Linked DNA regions of Homo sapiens: region 1 is linked to region 2. The links come from fine-mapping of genetic effects on gene expression. A gene starts in region 2. The other region holds a variant in brackets. All regions are shown on one strand. Distances are between the middles of the regions.

Region 1 (4,386 bases), 22 kb after region 2:
AAGAAGGAACCTCGAAGTGGAAATCCCAGGTAGGGCTGCCTCCTACCAAAGCAAGACTTCCACGCCCCACCGAAAGGGCGCACATGGGCCTGCCTCCCAGCGGGAGAGGCTGAGGTGGGAGTGACCGAAGGCCAAGCTGGATAAGAGACCCCGAGGTGGGGCCACACACACCCCGAAGCAACAAGTGCCCTCCGGAACCTCGGCCCTGCGGCCGCTACGCTTTTATGCAATGTGTGCGTCTGGGCTCACTTTGCGGAGCAGTCGTAATTCCCACCACATTCGCAGGAGGATCTGGGACAGCCCCGGTGCCTTGGCCCTGATGGTGCCGTCTGCCTCTCAGGACCTGACTGCCTAAGTGCTCCTCGACGGGGACTTCTTGGGGAATGGACTCTGATTAAATGACCCTCGGCTTTCCAAGGAGCTTCCTTCTGCACGTAAGCATTGTTGGGAGACCTGTGAAGGGCGGCTTCCTGATGGAGAGGGACCCAAAAGAGCTCCAGCCCATGGCACATCCACAAGCGTTTGCCACCGGGGCAGTGACCCTGGTCTGGCCCCTCGTTGCTGCCACCTCCGCCTCCTTGCCTTCCCGCAACTCCTGGCGCCCAGGCCTTCCGTCCTGCCGGCTGGCAGCACTCTGATTTCTGCGTGCTTATGATTAACCTGTACAATATGTTCCTCTTAATGCAGGGCTGTTTTCCTCTCCTCCAATTCTACAAACTGGAAAACAGCATATAGCCCGAGGCCACCCGGAATAATGCTGGTGTCAAGCATTAAAAAACATATTTGTTTTGTGTCCTCTAAGGACGAATGATAGACATGTAAAAATGTTTCCCTGCTTTCCTTTCAGGGAATACTTAGTTTAGAATTAACTTCTGTCAGAGAAAACACAATTTCCCGCACCCACTCTGTATGACTTCCCACCATTTCTATTTTGCGGGGGAAAATACCACACTGTGTTTGACACGTATGATTACAAGTTTACAGAATCCACTTACGTTTCTGCTGTTATTATTGTTTCTCTTTAGGAAAAGCTACTCATTAGAACCAAACAGAAGCCTTCTTTCGGGAGAAACAAATAAATGCAGGAAATTGGCTGTCCCCAGCTGAGCCGGCCTGATTTGTCCTTGTGTCTGGGAAAATGGGCTCCCCCAGGGGTTAGGGCAAGGGAGCGCCCATACCCCCAACCAAGCTGAGACCGTGGAAACTGGCCCCCCGAGGGGGGTGAGGGGAGCTGGCATGTCGCTTTCCTGCTGGGAAGGTGCCCGTAACACACATGCACACACATGCACCCTGCCCTCTCAGAGACAAAGGGCTTGCTTGGGACAGACAGTGACAGCCAGTGCTGCCCTCATTGTGACCGTTGCAGCCTGGGTCACCCCACAGGCCCCCAGCTTTCAGCTGGAGGGCACAGGAAACCCTGGGCTGCTCAGGCAAGCACGGCCCAGACCAACCCTCATCTTCACGCCAGGCTGTGGCTCGCTGCACCTTTGCCAGTGTTCCCAGGGAGGGAGAGGCACTTGGTGTTTTGCATCCTGGTGCCATAGCCGATGCCCCTGGGTCTCTGCCTTTCTTTGCAGTCGCACCAGGGCAGCAGGTATGGACAGCAGGTGTGTGTCTCCCGACTCTGACTTCTGGGTGACCAGAGGCCCAGGGGGCTTCAATGCAGGAGGGTCATCTGCTTTGCTGCCCACAAGGTAGACAATGAACACAGAGCCCCGGATGTCAGCTGACTCACCAGCACTACCCAGCCAGGCTGAAGACAGGACCTCCTGACACCAGAGCCTCCCCGGCTGTGCAAGGCCCACACACACCTGGCACACTGCTGTCCTTCCTCTTCATCTGGCCTTGTTGGCTCAGGCAGTTGTAACAAAGTACCACGGGCCGGGGCTTCAACACCAGAAACTGTTCCCTCCCAGTCTGGGGGCCGGGAGTTCAAGACCAAGGGGCCACTGGGCGGTTTCTCCCGAGGCTTCTTCATGGCCTACAGACTGTGGCTTCTCCCGTGTCCTCCCACGGCCACTCCTCTGCGCACGCGCATCCCTGGTGTCGATTTCTCTTCTTACAAGGACA[T/C]GTCCTATCGGGTCAGGGCCCTCCTCACAACCTCATTTAACCTTAATTCCCTCCCTAATGTCCTAGCTCCAGATACAGTCCCGTGGGGGCTGGGGCCTCACCTATGACTTTGGAGGACACGGCTTAGTCCACAGTGTCGCTCTCTGCCGGCGGCATCCACCATAACAGACGCCGCACGGGAGGCGCAGGGCTTTCCCCGGAGAGGGCGCGGCTTTTCTCAGCCGAGCTCCTGGTCTCACCAGGCTGCTGTCCTTAGTCTCCCTGCTCAGCAAGGCCGGTGTCTGCTGTGGGCTGTGTCCACTGCCCCTCAGGACAGTCCTGGAGGAGACAGCTCCATGTGCTCAGAGGCTCCTCGCAGCTCCCACTGCCCACTGTGTCCTGCCCTGAATGCATCCAGAAGGGGTCAGAAAAAAAGGAAGCTCCGAGAGGGGACAGGGAGTGACAGGACAGACGGGATCCCATGTGTCTGTGTCACCAAAGCAATTGGCACAAATCCTGGGAAGAGAGTGGGGCCTCAGCCCTCCAGAGGCAAAGACCTGGGAGAGTTGCCGCCCTCCCCACGGAGGCATGGGTGGGTGGGGATGGGAGAAGAACTGGAAGGCCATGTGGTGTTTGAAGATGCCAGATGCCCGATGCCCAGGGGAGCAGCAACAGAGGGAGCTCCTCCTGCGAGGCTGAGCCCAGGAGGTAACTGAGGACATGGCAGGAGGAAGACCTCAGTGAGGACTTTGTGAAACTTAGGAAGAAAGGAACTGTGACCCAAAACACATGGAGAAGAGGAAGAACAAAGAGTCAAGAAGCCAATACAAGGCAGCTGCCTCCAAGGCTGACCTGAGAGGAGTAACTGACCAACCTCGGGCCTGGACCTTCGAGGTTTAGGGGCCAATTTCTTATTGACCAGATGCCCTCCCAGCCCCAGGCCTTCATTATGATTATGAATCCTTTCTTCTGTTACCCAAGTTCATTGTAAGAACATCTTCTAGAAAGAGCTCATCAAATAGCTCAGAAGAGAGCTAGGCCCTACATCACTCTTTGCTAAGCATTTATACCTTGAGATAATTTTAGGTCGTATTTTTACTGTTTGGACTACATTGGATTAGTTAATATTTTGATTTACCAATGTAATACATAGTCATTTCAGAAAACTTACAAATAAAAAAAGGATTGAACAATAAAATATGATTAAATAAAATCCCACCATTTGTAGAAAAACCAATGTGGATATTCTTGGAAACTGAGAAATGATTTCCATACAGGGACGTGCTCATGCCTTCGGAGTGCTGTTCAGTCACTTCAACAGGCCCCAGGTGTGACGCAGGCTCCCGACACCTTTTCCCATCACTGCCCACATGTTCCCATGAATCTGATCTCGTCAACAACAAACAACCAACAACAACAAAGTTTAGTCTTACCTGTTCAAGACTTTCATGTAAATGGAATAATTCAGTATAAACTAGTTGGCATTCAGCTTCTTTCCCTCAGCACTTTTACTTCTTTATTTTGGATTAATATGACTTCCATTTCCCATTCATGTCTTACTGCAGTGGCTAGTACCTCTTGTACTATACTGAGAAGAAGCGGTAAGAGCTCTTTATCAGGTTGAAAAATTTACCAACTATTTTCTACCAACATTTGCTAAGAGTTTTTAAGTTATAAAACGGTGTTATATTTTCTCAAATAATTGATTTGCATCTATTGAAATGACAATATAATTTTTCTTCTTTAGTTAATTTGGTGAACTACATTGATTTATTCTCTTATGTTAAACAGATGTTGCATTTCTGGAATTTTCTAGAATCATGATTAAGTGGTCCAACTTAATCATGATATCTTATTCTTGTTACTTATTGCTGAATTTGATATGCTTATGTTTTGTTAGTGATTTTTGCATCTATGCTTATGAAGGCTATTGGTCTGTCAATTTCTGACCTTATAATGCCTTTGTCTGGTTTTTGAATTCTGGTTATAGTAACGTCATAAAATACTTTAGGAAATGATAGTTCCTCCTCTAGTTTATGAGTTTATATAGAATAGATGTTACTTCTTTCTTACACACTAGATGGAATTTACTAATGAAGTTGTTTGGGCCTGGAATTTTCTTTATAAGGAGTTTAATTATGAATTAATATCTTTAACAAATATAGGGCGATTTAAATTTTCTATTTTTGCCTGGGTTTATTTTGGTAATGTGTGTCTCTCAGGGAATTTGTCCATTTTATCTAAGCTGTCGAATGCATCAGCATGAAATTGTTCGTGTCATCACTCATTACCCTTTGCGTGTCTGCAGGACCTGTTGTGATGCCCCTTCCTGGTTCC
Region 2 (4,386 bases):
AAGGTGCATCCTGTACCCAGCGGCCGTTACCTGGCCAGTGTGCGTGACCTTCTCCCCGGTCGGCGAGACCCGCACCCCGAAACACCTGGCGCCCAGGGGCAGGCTCCGCGCCGCCTCGCCACACCGGTTCAGCAGCCGGCAGAAGGTCATCGCCGCCGCCATTTTGCGCCGCTGGCCTTTGACCCGGCGCAACGTCCCGCTTAGCGCTAACGCATGCGCACGGCTTCTGGCGGCGCCAAACACCCGGTATTTATTTCGCCCTGGGGGCGGGGAGCGCGGGTCGGGGCAGAGGGTGCGCCGGAGCTGCTCTCTGATTCAGGTGGTCACCCGTTTTCATCCCAGGTATCTCGCTAAAAATGCCCCTGATTACACCGAGTACTGTGCGCTTGTTTGACTTTTCATCAATGGCCTAAAAGTTAAGCGGCCCCGTTGCGCCGGCAGGTGCAGCCTCATGCAGTTGCAGCCGCAGGCTAGAGCTAGGGCCCTGATGAGGCAGGCAATGGTGTGCGAAACCTTCAGCGATTAGGAGTACCCAGTGGTTCTTATTTAGCGGACAGGCAGGGGAGGATGTAAACTGAAAATACATTGTTTATATTCTTATGGTAACCGATAATCATGAGACATTTAAATATCAAAATTATTGGGTGAAGGAGTCAACTGCTTAGCAGACGAGACTGGAAGTGCATTCTCCTCGTTCAAGGCAAGCGTTCCTGTGTGTGGTTACGGGGAGCCGCAGAGGAAACGTATATTGGGGATTTCTGCAACAAAGCCTAGTACACCGACTGATTTTACAGCATGCAAATACAGCCTCTAAAAAGGCCCGTTTTGCTTAGAGTTGACTTGGGTATAAATCCCAGCTTAAGCTCCAGCATCCAGCTTTTCTTTTGCTGTGGTCAGAGCCTGAGGACCACGTGACTCCAAGAACAAAACACTAGAGATGGATGAGTGGCGGGGAAGATGATAAAGAGGAGGAAAGGCATGAGAAACAAGAATGCACATGAAAACCTCCGGTCCCAAAGATGTCCCAGCAAACGTGGTGGTCAGAGGCAGATTTGTCCTGGAGCTGATAAACTCCAGCGGCCCGCCCGGTGTTCGCCGGGTCAGGTGGAAAAAGTGGGCGCTGCGATGAAGCGTTGGGGCCTGCAGGGAGCGCGGAGTGGACGCAGCCACGTCTGCAACTCACCCGGACACACACAAAAAGGAAGGCGAATGGAGTTACGGGTAGATACCTGAAAAGGCAGGGATAAGCGAGCTAAGGGTAGAATCTAGGTGGCAAGTATATGGGTGTTCACCGTACAGTTCTTTCCCTTTTTCTCTATGTCCGAAGTTTTTCATAATGTTGGGGAAAACAGCCGTAACCAGTTGAAACTACTGCCCGTCTCCACTCGTTTCCCGGAGCCTGTTTACATTTCTCCTGTCCACTTAAAAACATGTCCTCTTTCTCAGTTTGTTTTGACATTGGTATTTGCCAGTTTTTTCTAAGGCCTAAGTGGTTGTAATTTCTTTTTCGTTGCGGATATCCATTTTCGTTCCTGGTTTTTGCATTTTTTTTCCCGAGAGCGCTCCAAACAGCACGACGATCCCGGTGGCCCGCAGAGTGCGCGCAGTCGGGGAGTGATACGTCGCACTCCAGCGCCTGCGCACTCGCTGCTGCGTCTCTGCGCCCCGCACTGGACGTGGGCACGCCACGTGACCCCCCCCCCCGCCGCCATCTTCCTTCCTGGCAGCAGCGTCCGCGTGCCAGTGCGCAGACGCAGGGGTCGGCGCCGGGTGAGAGCGTGCGGCCGGGTAAGGGAGCCGTCTTCTCAGGTCAGGGGTCCCGGGTGTCTTGAGAGTGGGGGCTGCGAGAGGGTGGGGCCGGCCACCTTGGGACCCTCGGGCGTGTCTCCCCGAGTGGGCTGCGGTCAGAGGAGCGTGGGCCGGGGCCTGGCGGTCTCAGAGGGCCAGGGTTGGGGGGTGCGGGTCCGACCGTGGGCGCCCGACCTGGCGACAGGAGGGGGTGTCCAGCGACCCCGGGGCGGGAGAACTGGCGGCTCCCGAACGCGACCTCACAGCCCGCGCGCAGGGCCGGCTCCGGTGCCGCAGTGTCCTCCGGGCCCTGCAGGCCCAGCTCTTCCCAGCCGGGGCCGCTGAACCCTAAGGGCCGGGGCGCGTGGGGAAGCAGGGGCGGGCGACCGGGGTGCCAGAGTTCCGTGCTCTTCCGGAGCGGGGGCCTGTCCCGAAACTGGCCCGAGGGAGGGCCCCTGGGTCTGGGAAGAGTTGGAGGGAGGAGCTCATCAGTTGAACCGTCCTTGACCTGGTGTCTGTTTGGAAAGGGATGCGGCCTAAGTTTAAGCTCCCTCCCAGCCAAGTGAGCGGCTCCTCAACATCGCAGGGCTTTGCACACTCACCTACACTTGCAGCAGGCGGGAAAGGGAAGGAAGCCACCGTCCACTGCCCCTTATTCTCCTGGCACACTTGGCTGATTAAGGCAGTGTTCAAGCTCAGGTCGAGGCTGCAGCTGGTATGGGAACACCCTCAGTCCCCGAGGTCCCTGCCTTCCCAAGCCTCAGTGAAACAGAGAAAAGGAAGCCTTAAAGAGCAGGTGGAAGTGCAGGAGAAGCTATAACTCCTTTTTTTCTCTCTCCCATAGATTCACCACAACATGGCAAATCTTTTTATAAGGAAAATGGTGAACCCTCTGCTCTATCTCAGTCGTCACACGGTGAAGCCTCGAGCCCTCTCCACATTTCTATTTGGATCCATTCGAGGTGCAGCCCCCGTGGCTGTGGAACCCGGGGCAGCAGTGCGCTCACTTCTCTCACCCGGCCTCCTGCCCCATCTGCTGCCTGCGCTGGGGTTCAAAAACAAGACTGTCCTTAAGAAGCGCTGCAAGGACTGTTACCTGGTGAAGAGGCGGGGTCGGTGGTACGTCTACTGTAAAACCCATCCGAGGCACAAGCAGAGACAGATGTAGACCCTTTCCCTCCAGAGTCACGCACATACTCGTCATCGCATCACTTGGGAGAATGGTTGTATCTTATGGAAGGAATTATCACATCAAGGAGTCAGGGGAAAGTGACTGGAAGCAAACGCCCTAAAAGTTACCCATCACGTTTCAGTGTAAATGAGTAACTATAGAAGACATTGCGTTATCTTATTTCCAAAACGTTCCAACTAAAAAACATTTTCCTATTAAAATAGACCTTCCGAATAGCTTAGTTCATTCATTCTCTCTGAACTCAGGCTGCAGGTAGGGATTGGATGGTGCTGGGTGAGGCTGGGCAGGACTTCTCTATGTCTCCGTGAGGCTGCTTAGAGCCTCTTGGAAGAAGTGGTGTTTTGGTCACCCGTCGCTGTACAAGCCAAGGCTTGGTGGCTTAAATCAGCCATTTTACATTGTTCACGATTTTGTGAGGCATTTGGGATGGGCTCAGCTGAGCAGTTTGTCTGATCTGTGTGGCATTAACTGCAGGACCCACTTCCAAGATGGCACCGGCTCTCCTGTCTGGGGTCTCAGTGCTCCTCAGGCTGTACGTAGCACCTCCTCAGGCAGGGCCCACAGCGTGGCTTGCACTGCCCCACAGTGAGCTTCCCGAGAGTGTCCCGAGAGACCCAAGCAGATGCTACGAGGCTTCCTATGACCCAGCCTCAGAAATTCCAGCGTGTCATTTCTACCGCACTCTTTCAGTCCCTAGGGTGAGCCCAGATTCAGGGGGAGGCAAGGAGCTCCCCTTGCTAGAGGATGACCACACCTACAACTGGTAAGGACTTGGAGGGATGGAGTGGGCTGGTCCTTCCCTGGTCATCGGGATTCATAGTTGAGTGAGCCCCATGCCTTGGGGGAGCACTGTCATCAACATGAATTTGGGGGTGGGGAGCACAGTCCAACCCAGAGCAGATGCTGAGATGCGACAGCCTTCTCACGGCTCCTTTCCTCCTGGCCAGGGACACCTCCCCTTCTCCCAGAAAGGAGTTTTGTGAGACAGGAGACCACGCAAGAAGCCTAGCGCGGGGGGAGCGCCCTCCTGCCCAGATCAGCAGCAGGGGCGCAGCAGGGTCACCCAGAAAGGCCTGGTGGGGCGGCAGAGGGGGCAGCATGGCCACATGAGGGCCAAAGCTCCTCCCCAGCACCCACATCACTTCTCCAGGGGGAGCAGACGCCGGTGTGTGTTGCTGTGAACTCTGTGCTGTGCCCATTCACCCTCACAAAGGGCCTCTGCAAGCAGCTTGACATGGGCATTGCAGCCCGCAGGCGTCTGGCCAGTTGAAGAAGGTGGAGAGCGTTATTACCTGAAAGAAAAGGGAACCAGCTCTGCGAAGAGCCTGCTTCTGTTGTGCAGTGAAAGGGAAGCCCTCTCTCGAGCCGTTCTTAAGTGAGGAGTTGATGCACTAGAGTGTCTGTCA

The links. PIP is the estimated chance that this variant, and not a neighbour inherited with it, causes the effect.
Region 1: its variant is fine-mapped to the expression of MRPL36 in whole blood (INTERVAL, PIP above 0.99).

What each region holds. Positions count from the first base shown.
Region 1 is chr5:1,775,323-1,779,708 of GRCh38, reverse strand. No RefSeq gene overlaps it. Among named protein-coding and RNA genes, the nearest start is that of MRPL36, 22 kb to the left of the region's middle. The variant T/C (reference allele first, on the strand shown) is at 2,071.
Region 2 is chr5:1,797,194-1,801,579 of GRCh38, reverse strand. It overlaps MRPL36 (mitochondrial ribosomal protein L36), which reads left to right and starts at 1,743. Exons shown (of 2, transcript NM_032479.4): 1 at 1,743-1,788; 2 at 2,633-3,195. The coding sequence starts at 2,645. The coding sequence ends at 2,956. NDUFS6 (NADH:ubiquinone oxidoreductase subunit S6) reads right to left here and starts at 173. Exons shown (of 4, transcript NM_004553.6): 1 at 31-173. The coding sequence starts at 162. RefSeq lists enhancers at 1-364, 544-673, 734-783 and a silencer at 1,864-2,273.